Linked DNA regions of Homo sapiens. The protein of the gene in region 1 purifies or fractionates together with the protein of each later gene. This does not show direct contact. Each region holds a gene or a part of one and is shown on either strand. Other genes may lie near its edges.

Evidence for each region.
Region 2: the proteins of ICOSLG (region 1) and PREB purify together in Homo sapiens (affinity purification with mass spectrometry; 2 studies listed by BioGRID and IntAct, with this or other methods). This does not show direct contact.
Region 3: the proteins of ICOSLG (region 1) and UPK3BL1 purify together in Homo sapiens (affinity purification with mass spectrometry; 2 studies listed by BioGRID and IntAct, with this or other methods). This does not show direct contact.

What each region holds. Positions count from the first base shown.
Region 1 is NC_000021.9:44,237,934-44,245,881, reverse strand, and holds the start of ICOSLG (ICOS ligand isoform a precursor), read left to right. Parts: upstream 1-4,938; 5' UTR 4,939-5,064; coding exon 5,065-5,078; intron 5,079-7,057; exon of another isoform or gene 7,058-7,284; coding exon of another isoform or gene 7,285-7,342; exon of another isoform or gene 7,343-7,393; coding exon 7,394-7,434; intron 7,435-7,948. UniProt on the Homo sapiens protein: Ligand for the T-cell-specific cell surface receptor ICOS. Acts as a costimulatory signal for T-cell proliferation and cytokine secretion. Also induces B-cell proliferation and differentiation into plasma cells.
Region 2 is NC_000002.12:27,131,547-27,138,697, forward strand, and holds the start of PREB (guanine nucleotide-exchange factor SEC12), read right to left. Parts: upstream 3,091-7,151; 5' UTR 2,876-3,090; coding exon 2,741-2,875; intron 2,176-2,740; coding exon 1,986-2,175; intron 1,792-1,985; coding exon 1,571-1,791; intron 1,378-1,570; coding exon 1,297-1,377; intron 1,182-1,296; coding exon 1,057-1,181; intron 858-1,056; coding exon 684-857; exon of another isoform or gene 658-683; intron 537-657; coding exon 464-536; intron 286-463; coding exon 126-285; intron 1-125. Other genes in the region: PRR30 (proline-rich protein 30), read right to left, coding at 5,545-6,783.
Region 3 is NC_000007.14:102,639,764-102,646,908, forward strand, and holds the start of UPK3BL1 (uroplakin-3b-like protein 1 precursor), read right to left. Parts: upstream 3,029-7,145; 5' UTR 2,979-3,028; coding exon 2,867-2,978; intron 1,011-2,866; coding exon 849-1,010; intron 652-848; coding exon 441-651; intron 1-440.

The DNA.
Region 1 (7,948 bases):
AAGTACAGGACCTCAGCCTTGGCAGACAAAGGAGGGACCTGCTGAACAGACGGTGCGGAGGCCAAGGCCAGATCCACACACAAAAGTACAGGACCTCAGCCTTGGCAGGCAAAGGAGGGACTTGCTGAACAGACGGTGCGGAGGCCAAGGCCAGATCCACGCACAAAGGATGTCACTTGTGGGTCCTACCCCAGGTGGTATTGCTTGCAAAAAGCAGGGCTCCTCCTGGCCCTCTGCAGTCTGAGTCTCAGTGAGGATAAACCCAGCAGAAAGCTCTGCCTCAGGCTGTGCTCGAATCACAGGAAATGAATCTTACAGGGGAACTTTGGGGTCTGCACTGGGACTATTAGTGGTACGTAAAATGCTTTGTGGAAGAAAGGTTAAAATTGGACCCTTTGAAGGTTAAAAAGGTGTATCTGGAAGTAGAATAGAAGCCTTCACTTGAGTGAACATGACTGAACGCCTCTCCCATCTTGGGACAGTCCTGGATGCTTACGACACACATCTCACGTCCAGGGATGAATTTAGCAAGCTCTGTAATGACCCCGGGGTTCCTGAAGCCACAGAGGGAGCACAGGTGAGGGCATCCAAGTGCAAATGAGCCCTCTGGGGAGGCCTGCTTGAGCTGACACATAAATGGGGTTGAAGCCATTGTGAGCCCATGGGCACGGGCCAGGCAGGGTGGTGAGAGCTCCAGACAGGGCGGGCTGGGCTCAGGCTGTGTCCACCCAGGGAACCAGTGTCATGGGCCCAACATAACTCGTGGTCAGTTTCTGTGAGGGCTGCTTCAAAGCAGGGGCCCAAGGCTCTGTTAGGGGCTTTCTGCCACCCAAAATGCACTTTCCTTCTTTTGTTCTCTCCCCAACACTCAGAACTGTCCACACCACCTTGAGATTCTCTATGTATTTTATTTTAAATTTTTATTTTTTGAGACAGGGTCTAGCTAGTCCCCCAGGCTGGAGTGCAGTGGCACAACCATAGCTCACTGCAGCCTCCGTCTCCTGGGCTCAAGAGATCCTCCAGCCTCAGCCTCTGGAGTAGCTGGGACTACAGGTGCATGCTACCATGCGCTGCTAATTTTTAAAAATTATTTGTAGAGATGGGGTCTTGCTCTGTTGCCCAGGCTGGTCTCAAACTCCTGGGCTCAAGTGATCCTCCCACCTTGGCCTCCCTAAGTGTTGGAATTACAGGTGTGAGCCACTGTGCCCGACCTGCCAAGTATTTGAATTTTATACACAGGACCTGTATCATGATCCCATGCTCAGCTGAACCACCCTCCAAAGGATGCCCATGTCCCCATTCCCGGATCCTGTGAATGTTACCTCATGTGGCAAAGGAAGGACTTTGCTGACGGGATTAAATTGAGGTGGAAGGCCTCCCTGGATCATCCAGGTGGGTTCTACGTGTCATCCCAAAGGTCCTCATAAGAGAGGGGCAAAGTGAGGCTTGACCACACAGAGAAGCCACATGGCCACTGAGGCGGCTGCTGGAGCTAAGCACAGGGATGCCTGGGCCACCCAGAGCTGGGAGAGGCAGGTAGGATACTCCCCTAGCGCCTCCACCAGGCAGGCTTCCGCTCTCCAGGGCTGAGAGAGAATAGACTGCTGTTGTTTTGAGCCAGCAAGCGTGAGGTCGTTAGTTCCAGCGCCCACAGGAAACGAACATACAGTCATGCACCACATAACCTTCGGTCAACAAGCAATGCCACAGTGCTCCCATATCACAGCGCGGTATTTTTACTGCACCTGTTCTATGTTTAGATGGCTTTAGATACACAAATACCAGTGAGTCACAGCTGCCTACGCTATTCAGCACAGTCACCTGCCGCGTAGGCTCGTGGCCCTGGAGCAGCAGGCTGTGACACACAGCCTCGGCGTGTAGCAGGCTGTGCCACCAGGGCCAGTGTGTGCACTCTGTGTTCACACAAGGACAAAATCACCTAAGGACGCATTTCTCAGAAGGAATGTATCCTTTTCGTTAAACAATGTATGACTGTTCCCCGAAGAGAAAAGATCTTCCTTGGACCAGAAGTTGAGCTCTCAGCATCAGCGGACGCCCATGCTGTCAAACGCAGGTTGCTGTGCCAGACCCCAAAAGGACCCGGGCCTGGAGGTGCATCAAGGTGGAGATCAGAAGACCCCCACGCCCTCGAAACGGCAGAGCAGGGCGGCCTGGGGCTAGGGGCATCAGGCAGCTGCTTCCTGCTTAAGCACTACGACTCGCACCCAGAGCCTCGAACTCCAGGCTGCACAAATACGATTCCTGCTTGGTTCCCAGTTGGCCCTGGACGCTGCCAAGGGGCCCTCTCTCCACACCCCTAGAACAAAAGCCTATCCTGCCGGCCCAAGAAACAGTCACGGTTGAGGGGGAAAACGAAAACCTTCCTTTGACTACAGGAAACTTCCCAAAGGTTTCCCTGTTTCTTCATCTAAACCCATCTAAGTGTTGTGACACATGTGCCGGTGTGCTGTGTGCGTTCACTTACAACAGCCCCATTCATGTATATGTCACACGTCAGGGGATGCAGGCACCAAGGGGCTAAGGAACTTTCTGGGGTCACACAGCTCCGGAGTTGGGATCTGAACCAGCCACCGCTTACCGTGGTCTCCGAGGTTCCTGGGCTGGTCCTGGCACCCTCCCCCGCGGCCGCCTCGGCCTGCCTCAGTGTCCCCTTCTGGCCCAGCTGCCTTCCTGCCCCTGCCTGGCTGTGGCCTCCACGCGGCGTCCCCTCTCTCGGGGGGGCGGGGGGGGGGCTGCCCGCAGCACTTGGCTTGCTGGGGTCTCCGGCGTCTGCCCGGGAAGCAGAGCCTGGACCTGCCCCCTCGGCCACAGCACGGCGGGCCCTGCGGTGTCGGCCCCTCTCCCACCGCCCCCGGGCGGCACTGGGGGGCTGCGGGGTCCGGACGCACCGACAGGGCACCTTCCCTTCGCCGCCGCGGATGACCGGCCGCGCTCTTGGGAGGCCTTAATTTGGGAGGCTCTGCTCCCCCAGGACCCATTCCCCATCCTCCCAAAGCCCCCACGCGGTATCCGGGGGCCGTCCCCCTCTCCGCAGTCCCGCGGGTGGAGGGGATTCAGGTGCGCCCGGCCCTGGGGGTGGAGCGCTCGGCCCGGCGTCAGCTCATCGGCGCGGCGCAGCCCCGGACCTCAGCCGCAGGCCCAGAGGCGCGCGGTTCCCGGCCGGTCAATCAGGGAGGGCCTCCGGGAGGAGGTGGCGCTGCCCGCAGCCCGCCCGGCTCACCTGCGCCCTCCTCACCTGCGCCCTCCTCACCTGCGGGGCCATGCGGTCCCTTACCAGCAGCCGCCCGCCCCGGGGCGAGGAACCTCAGCCCCCAACATCGCCACCCCTCCAGCCTCGCCGGTCCTAGCCGGCGTCCCTGGGCGTGTCCCGGGAAGCGCACGTCCACGCTGGCGCTGGACCGGGTTTTCTGACTCCAGGGACGGGACTCGTCCTAAAGAGTCCGGCTCAGATGCGGTTACGCGCCTCACCTCACCCGGGTGCGGACCGCCAGTGCCTCCGCCCTGCACTCCGCGGGCCCTGCCCAGCTCTTCCCGCCGGAGGGCAGGTGGCCCCCGCCCCGCCCCTGCCAGGCGCGCGATTTTAAATCCCCCCAACCCCCGTCTCTCAGCGTGGCCTGGGAGGGGGAAGCCGCCCGGCTTCAGGGCTTCCTGCGCCTTCGCCGCCGCCCTCCCTGCCCTTCCCCGCCGCCGTCCCCCCTATCCCCCCAGCCCGTCTCTTCCGCCTTCTTATTTTGTGCCTGGGCTCTCTGCTCCGCAAAAATGTTGACTTCCCACGGGCAGAGGTTTCAGAATTTTTTTAAAGCTTTTGTCCACGGCGTTCTCTACATCTTGGTTGAAGGAATGGCAGCCTGCGGGGTGCCGTCTGGGGCCCCCGTCTCCCTGCGCTTCTCGCCTCCTCCATGCGCAGGAGGCGGTGGGGATCCGAGCCTCAGCCCAGAGGCGGGGGCTCCGGGAGGAGGGTGCCCCGCTGCCCTGTCTAGCAGCCTCACCCAGGCCCTTCCGGAGGTGCCTCTGCAGAAAGGGAGTCACGTCCCCCCTGGGCCTCACCTGGCTTGCAGGGATCAGGGAGGGAGGGCGGGGTGGGCTGGGTGCGGTGGGGAAGGAGCAGGGACTCTGGGTCCCACCCTCGGTTGCGTGGTGCAGCCTTTCCCAAACCAGCTGCCCCAGACTCCAGGCCAGACGCCACTGCCAAGGCTGACGAGCCCAGAGCCGCAAGCCTGCCTCGGTTTCTCGGCGGGGGATCCTCAGAGCCAGTGTTAAGCAAAGAGGCTGCGCCAGCGCCCTTCACACCCCTAGAAGGCTAGGGGAGCAAGGCTAGGTGGGGGCGGGCTGGGGCTGGCCCAGAGGGTAGAGCCCGCCCACTTTCCCTCCCTCCTTCCATTCATGCATGCGTTCATTCAGTCATTCATTCCTCAGCAGTCGCTGAGCTCACTCGCCTTAAGTCCTGGAGATCATCGGAGCGCAGCCGGCCAGGGGCCTGGCGCTCTCCCAGCCTTGGGGCCTGGGTCCCCGGACTCCTGCTCGGGGAGGGCCGCAGGACCGGCGCATTGTGCGCGGCGCGGGGAACGGCCCTTGCCTCCCACGGTGCCCTCCCTCGCTGCGCCGGCACCCGCAGCACCCCTGGCCACCTTCCTGCCGGGTACCCCCCACCCCTGCGCTTCCCAGGGCACCTACGGCGCCCAGGTCCGCGTCCAGGCGGACAGGCCGACCTGCCTCTGTCCCGCCTCCGGCCGACGGGCACACGCCTGGGCAGAGCCGAACTTTCCGGAGCCGCCGCGCAGCGCCCCGCCTCCTGTCCCGGGGCGGTCTCGGTCGCCAGAGGAGCCAGGCCGGGGGCGGGGCGGGGACGGGGCGGGGACACGGCTGCCTCCAGCACACCGCGCGCTGGGCGCTCAGAGCCTCGGGCGCGGCGGGAGCGCAGTTAGAGCCGATCTCCCGCGCCCCGAGGTTGCTCCTCTCCGAGGTCTCCCGCGGCCCAAGTTCTCCGCGCCCCGAGGTCTCCGCGCCCCGAGGTCTCCGCGGCCCGAGGTCTCCGCCCGCACCATGCGGCTGGGCAGGTGAGCCGGGGAAGGAGCGGAGGCGCCGCGGTCAGGGGCGGGGTGGCTCGGCCCGCGCGTCCCCAGCTCGGCTCGGACGCGGGGCCTGCGGGGCTCGCCTGGAGGTGCCGGGCTGGCAGTGCGGGTCCGAGGAGCGGGCGGCGGAGGCGCCGGGGCGGCCGGCGGGGCGTGGACGGCAGTGGGCGGCGGGGCCTGGCACCGGGACCCATGGCAGGACGCACAGCCGTGCGGGGGCGGGCTCGGGGGCGGGGTCCCTGCCAGGGAAGGAGGACCGCGAACGCTGGAAGGAGGGAGGGAAGGCGGGCGCACCCTGCACGCCGGGGCACGGGCGCTGCCCCTTCCACTCCCTGGCACTGCTGATTTCCTAGAAGAAGGGAGAAGGAGGGAGGTGACCGGCCGAGCGCTCTCCAAGGCCAGCTGGTGCCCACGGTCTGCGGACACGCCCTCCCCCACACACGTGGGATTCCCCGCAGCCCGGCAGCCGATCCACACTGGGGAAGGCGGGGCTGCCTGAACCAGGAGTGACAGCTTCCTCCTGGATTTTTGCGAAAATATCCAAAATATACTCTTCGCAACCCACGTTGTAGGGTCCGCAGCCTGTGCTCCCCTGGGTGAACCTGTGAGGCCCCTGACCCCAGGGATGCCTCCCGCACAGCTCAGAGCTGGGCCACACCGGAGTCACACTCCCCAGGTCCCCTCCCCATTAGAAGTGTATGCAGTTATGATCCTGCCCTAGAGAGAAAGAATTTAAAGGTCCCGGAATGTCATAGCCCTCCCAAATGTCTTAGCCCTCCGCCACCCACACCTTCAGGTAGGCGGCCCTGTCCATGCTGGGTCTTGAGGCAAGCTCGGGGTGGGGGTAGGTTAGATGCAGGGGTGCTGAGGGTCCAAGGAAAGGACACAGAGGCCGCTGCTTAGGCAGCACCCAGGGAGGGGACAAGCCAGAAACAGCCTGGAGCAGGCACCCCCCACCCTGGCCCAGGAAGCCCCCAGATGTCCTGAGGAGGCCTCCATAGACAGGAGGGGCCTTGTGGGCTGGTGATGAATATGGGCACTGTGGGAGACAAATGGGGGCACAGAGGAGTTCTCACAGCTGTCGTTTAGATGGTGGCTCTGGGGAAATGCTTGAAGGGGCTAAGGGTGGAGGCAGGGGGCCTGCTGGAGGCCATCACAGCCATCTTGCCAGCCAGAATGGTGGCCCCAACAGGGGGAGTGGGAGAGAGAGGAAGGGCCGCCTGCAGACTTCAAGAGCCCCTGGTGGCCAGGGGCCGCCTTGGTGCATGTGTGCTCACTTGGCACAGACACACCTCCATGCAGACTCAGATGACAGCCATCGTGGGTGGGGCAGGGGTTTCTGTGGCTCCAGGGCTCAGGGACAGCCCACTGGGAGGTTCCCACAAGACCAACCTTTGACTTACAAAGCCCCCAAGCTTTCCCAGGCAGAGGCCACAGAGAAGAGGGATGAGCGTCTCCCAGACCTTGGAGGTGCAGGGACATCAGAGAAGGAGATGTCCCTGCTCCTGGGGCTCTTGCTTCATGGGGAGCTGGCCCCAGAAACTGATGGTTTGGGGGGCTGGGGTAAGCACTGCTACCAAAGTGGTCCCGGCCACTAAGGGCCCCCACGTGGGGAAGGCATCCTGGGGGCTGGCGGGAGGAGGTGGCGAGCCTGTGGCGTGCAGGGTGCAAAGGCTCCCAGACCCAAGATGGCAGGGGCATTGGAGTCACGAGGGGAATTTGCTGCCCGAGGCAGGGGCACCAGCTGCAGCAGGATCTGAAACAGGAGGAGCTCAGGTTTGGTTTCAAAATGATCCGCGTTCCGCACAGGGCTGTCCCGTCACTCACCTGACCCTGTCACGGGCACGCCTGATGTTCTCCGTCTCCCCAGCATTTTAAGTGACACTCCTACTATATGTGCCCTGAAAGCTTTTTTTTTTTTTTTTTTTTCTGATTTCCTACAACTTCTTGGCATCTGTCCCCAGGAAGGCTAGACCAGCCTCACTGGCGTCCCTCGCTCCCCTTCATCCTCACGCCAGCATCACTGTGTTTCTGGGGATTTGTTACCGCGAGAGCTAGAGAGTGGTGAGAGGCTGCCAGCCCCTCGGACTTGCTGTGCTGGGCAGGAGGGTGGTGGTCCTGGCCCCGGACCCCGAATTCCCATGGAGAACAGAGGCAGGCAGGCTCCTGGCTCTGCCTTCACATTTCTGTGATGGGCTTAACTACCTCCTGCTCATGGGAACCAGCCTGTTCCTGTTTGGAAGATACAGGTAACTCCCTGGTGGCCCCGCCTCACCTGCCTTTCTGGTTGTTTTTTCCAGTCCTGGACTGCTCTTCCTGCTCTTCAGCAGCCTTCGAGCTGGTAAGTTCAGGGGGTGCTTTGCCATGGGGCGCCCAGCTCAGAGATGGGCTCTCCGGCTGTGTGGACTGCTGGCCGCAGGGCACTGGGAGCAGCCTCACCAGGCTCCTTCTTGCTTCTCAAGTGGTCCTTTGGAGACAGTTGGACCCTAAACCTAGGTTGCTGCACAGGATAGAAGCGTTTCCTTAAAGGGAAACACTTCTGCAAACTCCGGAGTTCTTGTTTGACTCCGTCTTTGTTGCGGGCAGAATGCAGTTCCTCTGAGCCAGGGCTTCCTGGGTCCCCTGGTCTCCCTGTCCCAGGCAGCAGCCCTGCTGAGCCCTAAGAGCCACCAGCCTCTGGAAGAGCCAGGAATAAGGACGAAGCACCGCAGCACAAACCTGAAACCTTGCCAAGCCTTCCAGCCCAGAGGGCTTTGGGGGCAGGGGACACACACAGATTTTCCTGCAGGTGCCAGGTGCAGTGGCTCACTCCTGTAATCCCAGGACTTTGGGAGGCCAAGGCGGGTGGATCACCT
Region 2 (7,151 bases), on another chromosome or scaffold:
GCTTCCCAGCCTGAAAACCAGAACCCTTCAAAGGAGGAGTGGCACAAAGAGCCCAGCCTCCGGGGGGCACGTTTCTGGTCATTAAACGTGGGGTGGTGCCTGCCTGCCCTGCCCCAATGACTCACGCCGTGAGGGCAACAGATGCAGCTGGCAACGACTGTCCACAGCCACAGAGAACAGGGCAGTTTCATGGGACCCAAGGAGCTCTGGACCACGACCCTTCTCAGGTAGAAAGGCCACATCCGTCACCACAATGCCATGGGCCTCCCTCACGTAGTAGAGGCACTGTGGGCAGAAGGAATACCAGTGAGGAAAGGCCTAGCTGGGAACTCTCTTTCTGGAAAGCATGTTCCCCACCCCCAGGATTTCCCTCGATAGGATGGGCCAGACTCCTTCCTGCAAACTCAGGGTAGAGACAGGCCTACAGTCCACCCACAGGGCCATGCCAACCTCCACCCATTACCTGGAGAGAGAAAGCTATGTAGATGGCAACAGAGCCAGTGACTGTGCCCAGGCCTAGGAAGGTGCCGGATTCACTGCAACAAACAATAAAGAGCTCATTGTCCTGGAGGCTTGTGCAGCAACCCTCATACCCCAATACCGGTCCGTAGGGACCCAGGCAGGACTCCTTTCCAAGCTCCCTCAGGGACCCCCTACCTAGCCAAGGCAGCAATGTCTCACACCTGACATCGAGGCAGGAGACGACTTCATGGCCACAGGACTTGGTCCGAAGGGGCAAGAAGTTGGAGCCATCCCAGGCTGTGAGGTAGCAGGGAGGGGGCTGGCGCAGGCGCTTGTGGGGAATTTGCACTGTGAAGAGTCGCAGGCCAGCAGGCTGGTCTGGAACCTGCCCAAACCTGGGGGCCGGATGAGGGGCTATTCAGCTCCTAGGGCCTGCCCAACCCTCCTCAGAGGTTTGTGCACCACCTGCACCCTGGTCAGACCTGGGGTAACACTCAACAAGTTCCTCCCCAGCTCTCCCATCCCCAGTCTTTTCCCTCTCCCCCACCACAGCTGGGCTATGCCTCTTTCAGCCACCACCCAAAGTCTTCACACCTGCAGGCCTGGTAGCGGTAAGGTGTGCTGGAAAAGGTGGGTCCATTTTCTTGCCAGTGCAGCTGTGTCACCAGCTGATCCTTCTGCCACACAGAGGCCTTAAGGTCCCGGCCCACGGTTACCAACTAGTTAGGAATAAAGATTCCAAGGATGGACAGTTAGGGGATCCACTTACTGGGCAAGCAGCATAAGCACCTCCTCTCTCCTTTCTCCATCCTCCTCCCACCCCCAGCCCCTCACCTTGCCATCAGGCCCTAAAGCCAGGTCTTCAATCTCCCCTTCGTGGGCTTTGAACTCCAGAACCTTCTCCAGGCTGGGCACCTGTAGCCAAACAACCACCATGGTTAACTCAGGTGTCCAGCAAGTACACTGTGACTGATGCCCACGCCACCCCTTCTAATGGCCCCTCAATGCAAGCTTCATTCACAAGTTTCCCAGATGCCACGTTCAACTTCTCACAATTTTGATCCTGTTGCTACTGACATTCACCCTCCCTAACCCTGCAAACCCACACCTTCCAGACACGGACGTAGCCATCTGTTCCTCCAGTGGCAAGCAGGGTATTATCGTGGTTGAAGCACACAACTTTCTGCAGTGGATCGGAGCTAAAGTCTGTCTGCACCGCCTGCAAATTCTCTACCCTGAGTTCTAGCCCCTCGTGCTGGGTTTCCGCTCCACATTTCTTCTCTGCTGGGGCTGCTCCCTTCCTTTGTCGAGGCCCCTGCTCCTTGGAACCTGTAACACAAACACTTGGCCAGGTTCCAGGCTTCTACAGTAAGGAGTACTGGCCCCTCTCTCCATGGCAGGTGCCCATACAACTTCTAGCTTGCTACCAAAACCCTACTTCCAGACCCACTTCTTTAGAGACACCAAGAGTGACCTTACTCGTTCAACCCTTTCCCCAAGGGGGTAGAGAGGGAGCTCCTCACCGGCCTTCTCTGCCTTGTTGCCCTGCTGTTGATGTGCCTGGAAGCGCAGGAGCTGACAGTGGGCATCCTGCCCTGCAGCAAGGATGTCACCAGCCAGTGCCAAGTTCATGGTGGCCCGTGTCTCTGTGTCATGGGAGTGCAGCAAGGAGGCACTCAAGCGCCCATTAATCAGCTCTAGCTGCAGAAAGTGCTGTGGGAGGGGGAACCCGGATGAGCAAGTTCAGGGGTGCCCAGAGAGCACGTTTAGGGAAGAGTCTGATGTCTTACCCCTTTGCTTTCTGCACGTTCTAGTTCACAAGGGTTTCTCGAGTCTTTTTTCTCTCATTTGGGCCTCACAAATCTACACAGTGAGCAGGACTGGGATTATTACCTCTATTTTACAGAACAGGGTGAAGCTCAGGAGAGGGAAGGAACTTAGCCTAAACCCAAATGCACCACTCTCGCCGCTGCTAGAGGGCAGGCAAGACCTCCCGGAAAAGGCCAGTATAAGACCCCTGGAGCTGCTCTGAGGCGGAGCTGAAGCGTTCCTGGCGACTCTGCAGCTGTGTGCAGTTTTCACTTTACCTTAAAAGCCTCTCCTCCGCCCGCTGAGTTCTCGACTGAAATTCGCCCCTGGGCGTCAGGCAAGCGGGTCTTCCCAACAGAAGTGGGCAGGGCCCGAAGCTGGAGTGTGGCCCGCCCCGCGACCCCCCGGCCACCCTGGAATCGCCGCCAGCCCGCAGCAAGACCCAGCCCCAGTGGCCCTGCGCTCTCACCACGCCATTCTTTATGCCTGTCTTGGCGGCGCCTCCTCCGCCCGCAGCGATGAGCAGCCCAGTGCTGGGGTCGACCTGAAGCGCGTACAACGGGAACGGAGCCCGGTACAGCTCTGGCGCCCGGCGCCGGCCCATCCCGCCCGGCGCGCGTTCACTGCCCGCACCGCGGCACCCAGGACATGCCGCGCCGGGCCTTCGACTACTGCCCCGGCGGCTGGTGAACTCGGCCCCGTCGCCGCCGGGAGCACTCCCTACCCCTCTCACACCGGGGAGTTGCCAAAACCCTGACCATCAGCAGGAAGCCGAGCCTCAGCTCGGCTCCGTCCAAGTCGGTCTCGCAGACGCGCACTGCGCATGCGCACCTGTCTCGCGGCTCCCTCCGCGCAGGCGCAGGAGCGCCGACACGCGTCAGCACTAGCCGGCCGCGGGGCCGCGTTTCCCGGGGCGGGGCTTCGGTTCTCCACCCCTGGCGCGGAGGCAGAGTCGCCCAGCACCGACTTCGCCATTTTTGTGCGGGGCGCGGGGCGCGGGCGGAGGAGGTGGAGCCAATGGAGGTTGATGAAGGTCAACCTTTAATAAAGAAATCCGACTCGCGCCTGTAATCCCAGCACTTTGTGAGTCCTAGGCGGGCGGATCAGGAGTTCGAGACCAGCCTGACCAACATGGAGAAACCCCGTCTCTACCAAAAATACAAAGGGCGTGGTGGCGTGCGCCTGTAATCCCAGCTACTCGGGAGCCTGAGGCAGGAGAATCACTTGAACCTGGGAAGTAGAGGTTGCAGTGAGCCGAGATCGCGCCATTGCCATTGCTCTTCAGCCTGGGCAACAAGCAACAAGAGTGAAACTCCGTCTCAAAAAAAAAAAAATCCTCTGCCAGGCACGGTGGTTCATGCCTGTAATCCTCCTGTAATCCCAACACTTTCGGAAAGTCCGAGAGAGGAGGATGGCTTGAGCCCAGGCTTTCGAGACAGCCTGGGCAACATGGGGATCCGTCCCTACGAAATATTTAAAAATTAGCCAAACATCGTGGCACCTGTGGGCCCAGGTGCCCAGGAGGCTCAGGCGGGAGGATCACTTGAGACTGGGAGGTCGAGGCTGCGCTGGACCACCAGTGATGTCACCACTGCACTCCAGCCCCTGGGCAACAGAGCTAGACCCTGTCTCTCACACACATAAAATCCTCAAATAAGGACTGTTCCCATCTGAGGAGTGATATGCCAACTCCTAGGAGCACAGGCCTTTGCATCTTACCTCAGAGAGGAAGTGATTTGCCCGAGGGCACACACCAGAAACCACCGGAGTCTCTTGCTTCTTAACGGAGGCAGCATGAACTTAAAAATAAACCTGACTTCAAATGCTGAATCCATTGCTTCCTCGTATGAGGACACGTCTGTCATCCTTAACGCCTATCGCCCACTTTTGGCAGGGGTGGTGTCTGCCATTCCCTTTCTCAAGGCTTCACACTCCTGGGCTGGTGGCTTGGTGGGTGGCCAGCTGCTTTGCTGGCCTCAGAGGGGGCAGTTTGGCTCCCGGGCAGGTATCTTCTGCGCCTGACACTCCATTCTCCCTCGGGTTTCTGATCTGATGAGGACCTTTGTGCACTCCTGAGAGCGAGCACAAGGGATGTCCTTCCCTGCAAAGAGACGCCCTCTCCTGCATTCTCATTAACCTAAGGTGCACCCAGAGGAATAGCGCAGTGGCTTCATCTTTGGGGATGCCAATATCTGTCCCACAGAGTTGAATTAGATGTGTGAAGGGCCTGGCCAAGCTCTCTGCATATCTCAAGTCCCCAGGCCTTGTGGGTCCCTTGTCCTCCTTGGATACATGGCACCTGCTCTTTCTGGCCTCTCCGTTTCCTTTGACACCACCCTCCAGGGTCTTTTTTATTTTTTGAGACGGAGTCTCGCTCTGTTGCCCAGTCTGGAGTGCAGTGGCCTGATCTCAGCTCACTGCACCCTCCACCTCCCAGGTTGAAGTGATTCTCCTGCCTCAGCCTCCTGAGTAGCTGGAACTACAGGCACCCGCCACCACACCCAGCTAATTTTTGTATTTTTAGTAGAGATGGAGTTTCACCATGTTGGCCAGGCTGGTCTCGTAACTCCTGACCTTAAATGATATGCCCACCTTGGCCTCCCAAAGTGCTGGGATTATAGGCATGAGCAACCACACCATGCCCTCTTTTTTTTTTTTTTTTTTTTGAGATAGGGTCTCTGTCACCCAGGCTGGAGTGCAATGGCATGATATAGCTCATTGCAACCTTGAACTCCTGGACTCAAGTGATCCTCCCACTTTAGCCTCTTGAGTAGCTGGTAGTACAGGCACGCGCCACCATACTCAGCTAATTTTTTTATATTTTTGTTTTTGGAGAGACAGGGTCTTGCTATGTTGCCCAGGCTGGTCTCAAACTCGTGGCTTCAAGTGATCCTCCTACCTCAGCCTTCCAGTGTGTTGGGATTATAGGCATGAACCACCCCCTCCCCGCCACCAAGGGTCTTGTTAGGGACTGGCACCCCTATAGTTACAGCCACCTATTCTGTGGACTCAGCAGGACGCAAACACAAGTTTCACAGGGTCAGACTTTATTAGATACACGGAGGGCTGAATGGGGCCTTGGTGCCCTTGGTCCTCTTCAGCCTGGAGACAGCAGACTCCACAAGGGGCTCCCAGGGTTCAGAGCAGGAGAACACACCTGACCTCCGGCCAGCCAGCCCTTCAGGGTGTCTCGGGGACTCCCCGAGATCTGGGGCCTGGTTGGGAGGGTTGGGTTTGGAGGGGGTGTTCCAGGGGGCCTCCGTGGCTCTGGAACTAGACTGATGACTTTTGGAGAATGAGCTCCAGAGAAACTGGCCTCTTTGGGCCAGGGCAAGGCCTGGGCTTCAGGGAGGTAGTGACCTGTTTTGGTGCCCGAGGTGGAGGCCCGGAGAAACATCGTGGGGAGTTTGGTGATTGAAGGCCTGCAGACCTGAAGCTCCTGGTCTGGGAGGGTGTGCCTGGGACTGGGTCGGCCCGGGCCTGAGCTGCTGGAGGCTGAGATGCTGGCAATTGATGCCCACAGGCCTGAGTAGCCTTGCCCTGAGGCCCTGCTTCCTTCGGCCTTTTCTCGGGCAGCAGATGCAAGGCCCTGGCCTGGCCCTGAGGCAGGCGGAGGCCGAAGCCGATGCCTATCCGGAGTGGCCCAGATTCCTGGCCCTGCACACAGGGCAGTAGTTGAGGGAAAGCAAGCAGCCGGGGTCCAGTCCTGTACCTGGGGAGGGGGCAGGAGGGGCTGCGGGGCCGGAGGCACACCAGGCATATAGGATACTCCACGACTGGGGCCTGGCCGGTTCTGCCTAGCCACAGGTGCTGCAAAAGCAGTAGCCGCAGGTCGTGTGCGATGCGGCGGTGCCCCAGCTGGACCACCAGGGCCTGGGCCAGGGCCCCTGGGTCCCTGAACTGTGCAGGATCCTTCTCGCTTGGCACGCATCTCTCCACCACTCCAGGGGACCCGGACCCAGTGTCCCTGTACTGATGCCAGCGCCATGTCTGCCTGTTAGAGTGGAGCCTATGAGAAGGTGGGCTGGGGCCTGGGGAAGTGAGTGTGGAGCTATGCAGTTCCTCGGGGTGGGAAGGGGACTGGCAAGGTGAGTGGGGAAGGGAGGAGTTCTGAGGCTGGGAGGGAGAAAAGGAAGGGGTCAGAGGGGGAGAGGGGTACAGCCAGTGGTTGGAGGGAGAGGATGCACGTGGACGGGGGAGAGAGAGGTAGTTCTGGTGAAAGAAAGTAGGGGAACTTGGGAGAGAGGGAGAATAGGGATGTGGAGCAAAGTCAGAATTTGAGTCACAAGAGCCGAATTGGAAGCCAGGAGAGGGGGATGCTGGTGGAGGGGAGGAGGGACGACGGGACTGAGTGGAAGAGAACGGTGGTTGAGAGGGAGGGAGGCCCTGATGGGGAGAGAGAGGCTGTAGGTTGTGAGGAGAGGAGTCCACAAGTTGTGAGAAGCCCCAAGTGGGGCGCCCAGGGAGCACTGAGGTCTGTGGCAGCACCTGGTCCTTGTTTTGAGGCAACATCGCCTTGAATCCAGAAGGAACTGGGGCAACAAGACTAGGGATAAGAGACCTGGCAGAGTCAGGACCAGTATCTCTGAGGTCAGCTGTGCCTGAGAAATCAAGGCCACCTTCTGTGCGCAGAGCGTGGCTCCAGCCTGGTGTGGGTGCAGGTGCTGGTGGCAGGCCAAGGGGATACCCAGCCCTCCAGCACCAGGCTCTCAGGGTGTTCAGGCATGAGCATGAATCTAAGCTTGGCTTCTCACTTCTTTGCAGTCAACCATTGATGAGGGATGTGTGGGGATGGAGAATCACAGCTGCATCTTGGGAGTGGAGGGGCAGCAGCGATTATCTGGGTGGGGCAGAGAGGAAGACAAAGCCCATAGGACCTG
Region 3 (7,145 bases), on another chromosome or scaffold:
CAACATGGCGAAACCCTGTCTCTACTAAAAATACAAAAAGTAGTCGGGTGTGGTGTCAGATGCCTGTAATTCCAGCTACTCGTTAGGCTGAGGCTGGAGAATCGCTTGAACCCGGGAGGCACAGGTTGCAGTGAGCCGAGATCACCCCACTGTACTCCAGCCTGGGTCACAGAGCAAGACTCCATCTCAAAAAACAAAACAAAAAAAAAAAAAAAAAAGAAGAAGAAGAAAAGGAAAAAAAAAAAAAAGAGAAGAAGGATAATTCATGTAATTCATGAAGGCCTCCCTAGCCCCTGCCTGCTGCTTCCTCTTCCCTTTGGCCAAGCAGGAGCAGGGGACCCAGGCATCCTGCTGGGGCCCTGGTGAGCCTCGTAGGAGCTGCCCCAGGCTCCGGCTTGGGTGCATGCGGGCAGGAGCCAGGGCCTGGCAGAGCTGCTCACCTGTAGGGGCCGGGTCCTGGTAGGGGATGGTTGCAGCCAATTTTTGTTGGTTGGCAGTGGGTATCATTGCCGACGCGGAGGACATGGAGCTGGCCTCTGGTCTGGTACAGCACCCGGTTGGCCCTCAGTGTGAGATAGTAGCCCCTCTGGGAGAAGTTGGCAGGAGCAGGGATGTCCTGGTTTGTCCGTGGGGCCGTGAAGCTCTGGGTGGCTAAGGGTGGCACCATGGTCAGACAGGTCACACAGCAGGATCCCACCCTCACCTTACCAAGCCTGACAGCCCTCCCCGGCCCCATCCCCTGCAGCACCTGCTCCCTGCATCTCCCTGCAACACACCCGCTACTGCCCTTAGGCCCGCAGGCCCATTTCACATAGGGAAAACCGAAGCCTGGCCCCAGCAGCACCCACCGTTGCTGAGGGCCACCACCAGCCAGATGGTATCCAAGTCAGAGATGTTGTGGCTGCTGAACTGGCCTAGAGGCTGCTCCAGCGTGAAGGTGGACAGGGTGAGCCTCCCCGCCAAGGTGTCGTTTGAGAGCTGGGGCACATAGCTGATGTGCTCTGGGGCAGCTGGAAGGGGAGGGCAGAGAGGAGAGTCCAAATGGGGCAACCAAGCCCCAACAGCTCTGGTCTCCCCCCGCCCAGATCCAGACTTAACATGGGAGCCCCAAGTTACGGGCACTTCCTGGGAGGTCAGGTCCGGTATGAACCAGGAAGCTTTCCCGGCAACTCTATGCCCCATGGGCATGGGTGGGAGGCCTGAGTCCAGCCCCTGGCCCCTCTCTTAGGAGCCTACTGGGGGTGGGCACTGTGGGAGGTCTAGGACAATGGTGGCATGGGAGGTCCCACCCTGGCGGTAGGCACAGTTCTCCTGGGCCGGGCCATGTTGGGATGGAACTGGAATTTGGGGGCAGCCTGACCCTAGGCTGAACTCTGTTCCTGACATGCCCAGTGACCTCCAACTTAAGTCCCTCCAGCTCCACCCACATGGTCTAGGTTGTTTTGCTTGATGAGAGGATGCGTGGCTTGGCAGGGGTCGGGGGGATGGCACAGGAAGGTCCTCTTGGCTGAGACCCCAGGCTGGGACACAGACTGCCCAGAGGGTCCGGGGGCTCTGGAGCCAGAGCTTGGTTCCGAGTGAGTCTAGAACGTCCTCTTCAACCTGCCTGGTTCTCTGCCGCCTCCCAACATGGCCCCGAGGCATCTTCGCCTTCAGGACCAGGTCCCCCTCTCAGACTCCCACCTCATCTCTCTGGGGAAGGGTGGGGGACGAGGACAAGCTTCCCAGGTCTGTACCCCAAAGGGGACTCAGGATTGGCAACTTGGCCTGTGTCCAGCCTTGCTGGTTGGAGAGCTCAGACCTCCCCAACCCCAAATACTGGTCTAGGAGAAGCAGAACGATGGAGTGGGTTTCTATGTGAGTCTCCAGCAGCTGCCCCTGTTCAGTTCAGTTCAGTTCAACTTCATTCATTTACGTTGAATTCAACTCAACTCCAAAGGTTCAGGCTAGAGTCTTCCTTGGGGAAGGATTGTCACGATTCCTTTCTTACAGCTCTCAGTCCTATCTCTGAAGCCCAGGGCACTCTGCGTGCAGGAGGCACGTAATGTTTAGAAAGAGAAGTGGAGGCCGGGCGCGGTGGCTCACGTCTGTAATCCCAGCACTTTGGGAGACTAAGGCGGGCATATCACGAGGTCAGGAGTTCGAGACCAGACTGGCCAATATGGTGAAACCCTGTTTCTACTAAAAATACAAAAATTAGCCAGACATAGTGGCGCACGGCTGTAATCTCAGCTACTCAGGAGGCTGAGGCAGGAGAATTGCTTGAACCCGAGAGGCGGAGGTTGTGGTGAGCTGAGATCGCGCCACTGTACTCCAGCCTGGGTGACAGTGGGAGACTCTGTCTCGAAAAAAAAAAAAAAAGAAAGAAAAAAAAGAAAAAGAAAAAGAAAAAGAGAAGCGGAGCAGTCAGAGATTGGGGTTGGGGGCAGAGATTGTAGGACTGTATCTCTCAGCCTGTCCAGTTTTTCTTTTCTTTTCTTTTTTGAGACAGGGTCTTGCTGTTTGGCCCAGGCTGGAGTGCAGTGGCGCATTCATAGTTCACTGCATGGGCTCAAGCCATCCTCCCGCCTCAGTCTCCCAAGTAGCTGGGATTACAGGTGCACTCCACCACACCCAGCTAATTAAAAACAAAAATCTTAAAAAAAAAAATCTTTTTGAAAAAAGGGGTCTTGTTATGTTGCCCAGGCTGGGCTTACCAGAGCTTCCTGGGGACATGCATTGTCCTGGACATCTGGAAACCTCTCCTCAGGGAAAGGAAGGAGGCAGGAGCCATGTGTGAGAATTTGGAAACAAAGTGAGGTCTTGGGTTTGTCCTGCAGCCTGAGATGCAGCGGGTACCCCTGTGCCAATCCCCACCCTTACTCACCCACGTCTGTCCCAGGCTGGACACGGGTCAGTAGCAGCAACAGCGACACTAGCAGCTGGGACTGTCCCGCAGAGAGCCCTATGGCCGGGCCAAGCCTCCAGCTGTTGTCCATCTGTCTGTCCGTCCGTCTGCAGTGTCTGCAGCCCCAGAGGCTCCCCTGTCTGTAGTCTGTGCTGTGCTAGGGGAAGCTGTTCCTGGCATCTCCTGCTGCCCCTCCCAGCTACCCCCTCCTCTCAAACAACTGGTTGGACAGGTTTGGGGGCAGAATCTGCCAGCCCAGTGAATCTGGCATCGCCAGGGAGGGGTCTGAAGAGAACATACAGTTGCAAGACAAGCCTGGACTACCCCCCCCACCCACCAGGAGCGCCTGACCAGGGAGGGGCTGAGGAAGGAGGCGGGGCAGCCTCAGGATCCAGGCTGCCCCAGGGACAATCCCGCTAAGTCTACCCCGTGGATCTCCTTGTCCAAACAGTCCCCAATGTAGCGACTCTTCCTTTAGGACCTGAGGTGGGAGGATCACTCGAGCCTGGGAGGTTGAGGCTGCAGTGAGCCAAGATGGCACCACTGCACTCCAGCCTGGATGACAGAGTGGGACCCTGCCTCAAAAAAAAAAAACAAAAAACAAAAAACAAAAAACCAACCTAGGAGGAGTTGGTGTCTGTTTTTGGTTCATAGGGAGTGCCGCTCAAGCAAACTCCCTGGAGTCTCTTTTATTTATTATTATTTTTTTTTGGGGGGGGCAGGGTCTCACTCTTTCGCCCAGGCTGGAGTGCAGTGGTGCGATCATAGCTCACTGTGGCCTTGACCTCCCAGGCTCAAGGTTCTCAGATTCTCAGGCCCCACCCTGGGGAAGGATGGAGGATGAGGACAAGCTTCCCAGGTCCACATGACAGAGGGACTCAGGATTGGCAATTTGGCCTGTGTCCAGCTTTGCTGCTCAGAGAGCTCAGATCCCCACCCTCAATTCACTCCCTTGTGTGGAAGGGAGTGACCCTCACTTTCTAGCACACACAGGGAAGAGGGCTTGGCTAAGAGCACCCAGGAGGTCAGGGCAGGACTGGGGATTAGATCACACCCAAATGCATCTCTGTGGCACTCCTGGTATAGCCCTGCTGTCCCCCTGTAGCCTGGCCCTGGGAGGGGGGCTCCCAGACTTCACACCCCCTCACCTCTTTATCCAGGGGACCGGCTGTCTCTTCCTCCTTCATCCCCAGCCTCTGTCAGGGCAGGGTAGTTCCTCCTCGAGACAGAAAATTACCAGATGGAAGTCCAGGCATGGTGGCTCACGCCTGTAATCCCAGCATTTTGAGAGGCCGAGGTGGGTGGATCACCTGAGGTCAGGAGTTCGAGACCAGCCTGGCCAACACGGCGAAACCCCATCTCTACTAAAAATACAAAATTAGCTGGACGTGGTGGCTTGTTCTTGTAACTCCAGCTACGCAGGAGGCTGAGGCAGGAGAACCACTTGAACCCAGGAGGCAGAGGTTGCAATGAGCCGAGATCGCACCACTGCATTCCAGCCTGGGCAACAAGAGTGAAACTCCCCCTCAAAAAAAAAAAAAAAAAAAAAAGATGAGATGGGGCTCAGGGCAGGTGGAGCGAGACCTGTGACCACCTCTCCCCTGGATCGGGGTGCTAGCCCCCGTCAGCCTGACCTTCACGCTCTAATTATGCCAGATGTCTTCATTCTGGGAAACCCAACAGATTATCACCTGTGGGCCCCATTTTTGGATGAAGAGGGACCATTCCCTGAAGGGGACATACCTCAGTTCCCCGAGGGGATTCAGATGTTCACCTCAACTCACAAGAAAAACTTCTGGCCGGGCGCAGTGGTTCACACCTGTAATCCCAGCACTTTGGGTGGCCAAGGTGGGCGGATCATCTGAGGTCAGAAGTTTGAGACCAGCCTGACCAATGTGGAAAAACCCCGTCTCTACTAAAGATACAAAATTAGCCAGTCGTGGTGGCACGCGCCTGTAATTCCAGCTACTCGGGAGGTTGAGGCACAAGAATCGCTTGGACCCAGGATGGGGAGGCCGTAGTGAGCCGAGATCACACCACTGCACTCCAGCCTGGGTGACAAAGTGAGACTCCATCTTAAAAAAAAAAGAACAAGAACAAAAACAAAAACTAGGAAGAGTTGGTGTCTGTTTTTGGTTCGTAGAGAGTGCCTTCTAGCTGTGTCCTCATATGGTGGAAGGGTCAAGGAAGCTCTCTGGGGTCTCTTTTATTTATTATATTATTATTATTTTTTGAGACGGGTCTCACTCTGTTGCCCAGGCTGGAGTGCAGTGGTGTGATCATAGCTCACTGCAGCCTTGACCTCCCAGGATCAAGTGATCCTCCCACTTCAGCCTCCCTAGTAGCTGAGACTGCAGGTATAAGGCACCATGCCCAGCTAATTTTTTGTTTGTTTGTTTGTTTGTTTTGAGACAGAGTCTCACTGTCGTTCAGGCTGGAGTGCAATGGCACGATCTCGGCTCACTGCAACCTCCACCTCCTGGGTTCAAGTGATTCTCCTGCCTCAGCCTGCTGCGTAGCTGGGATTACTGGCGTGCACAACCACTCCTGGTTAATTTTTGTATTTTTGGTAGAGACGGGGTTCGCCATGTTGGCCAGGCTGGTCTTGAACCCCTGACCTCATGTGATCTGCCTGCCTCGGCCTCCCAAAGTGCTGAAATTACAGGCGTGAGCCACTGTGTCCGGCTGCCCAGCTAATTTTTTAACTTTTTGTAGAAAGAGAGTCTTACTGTGTTGCCCAGGCTGGTCTCAAATTCCTGGGCTCAAGTGATCCTCCCACCTCAGCCTCCTGAAGTTCTGGGATTCCAGGTGTGAGCCACCATGTCCGGCCTGTATAATACAATTTTTCCCTCTCTCACTCCCTTTCAAAAGGCAGTTGAAAGCAGACATCAGAATGTGGGAAGGGCTTGTTTCCCCTTTTTGAAAACACGTTCTTGCTCATCGACTCATCCTCTCCTTGGGTCCCCAGAGATGGGCAGGGCAGGTGTTATGACTAATCTCATTATATGGATGAGAAGAAACCTGGGGCCCAGCAGGGAAAGAAACTTCCTGCAGTCCCAGGGCAGGTCAGCGGCAGGGCTGGGACCCAACCCCAGGTCTCCTGTACCCAGGCAGGACTCCCTCTTTGCCTTTTTTTTTAAAATTTAATTAATTAATTTGAGTTGGAGTCTCGGTCTGTCACCCAGGCTGGAGTGCAGTGGCACAATCTCAGCTCACTGCAGCTTCTGCCTCTGGGGTTCCAGTGATTCTCCTGTCTCAACCTCCCAGGTAGCTGAGATTACGGGCACACGCCACCACGCCTGGCCAACTTTAGTATTTTTAGTAAAGACAGGGTTTCACCATGTTGGCCAGGCTGGTCTCAAACTCCTGACTTCAGGTGATCCACCTGCCTCGGCCTCCCAAAGTGCTGGGATTACAGGTGTGAGCCACTGCACCCAGCCTGTCACCTTTTTTTTTTTTTTTTTGAGACTGAGTCTCCCTTTGTCACCCAGGCTGCCATGCAGTGGTGCCATCATAGCTCACTGCAATCTGTCTCCTGGGCTCAAACAATGATCCCGCCTCAGCCTCCTGAATAGCAGAGACGACAGGTGTGCACCACCATGCCTGGCTCATTTTTAAATTTTTTGTAGAGATGTGGTCTCACTATGTTGCCCAGGCTGGTCTCGAACTCCTGGGCTCAAGTGATCCTCCCACCTTGGCTTCCCAAAATGCTGGGATTACAGGTGTGAGCCACTGCACCCGCCCTTGAATGGATTTTAAAAACCCACCTAGGCTGGGCGTGGTGGTGCATGTTTGTAGTTCCAGTACTTTGAGAGGCTGAGGCCGGAGGATCATATGAGGCCAGGAGTTTAAGGTTGCAGTGAACCATGATCATACCACTGCACTCCAGCCTAGGCGACGGAGTGAGACCCTGTCTCTAAACTAATAATAATTTTTGAAAGTGTTAAAATCCACCTAGAATTTATTTTTGGTGTGATGTGTGATTCAAATTATTTTTTTCTCAAGTTAGCCCGTTATTCAAACACTAAAATATTGAAAAATGCATCCTAAGCCGGGTGCAGTGGCTCACACCAGCACTTTGGGAGGCCAACGCAGGCGGATCACCCGAGGTTGGGAGTTCAAGACCAGCCTGACCAACATGGAGAATAATAATAAGCCGAGATCGCACCATTGTACTCCAGCCTGGGCAGCGAGAGTGAAACTCCATCTCAAAAAGAAAGAGAGAAAGAGAGAGAGAGAGATAAAGGAAGGGAGGAAA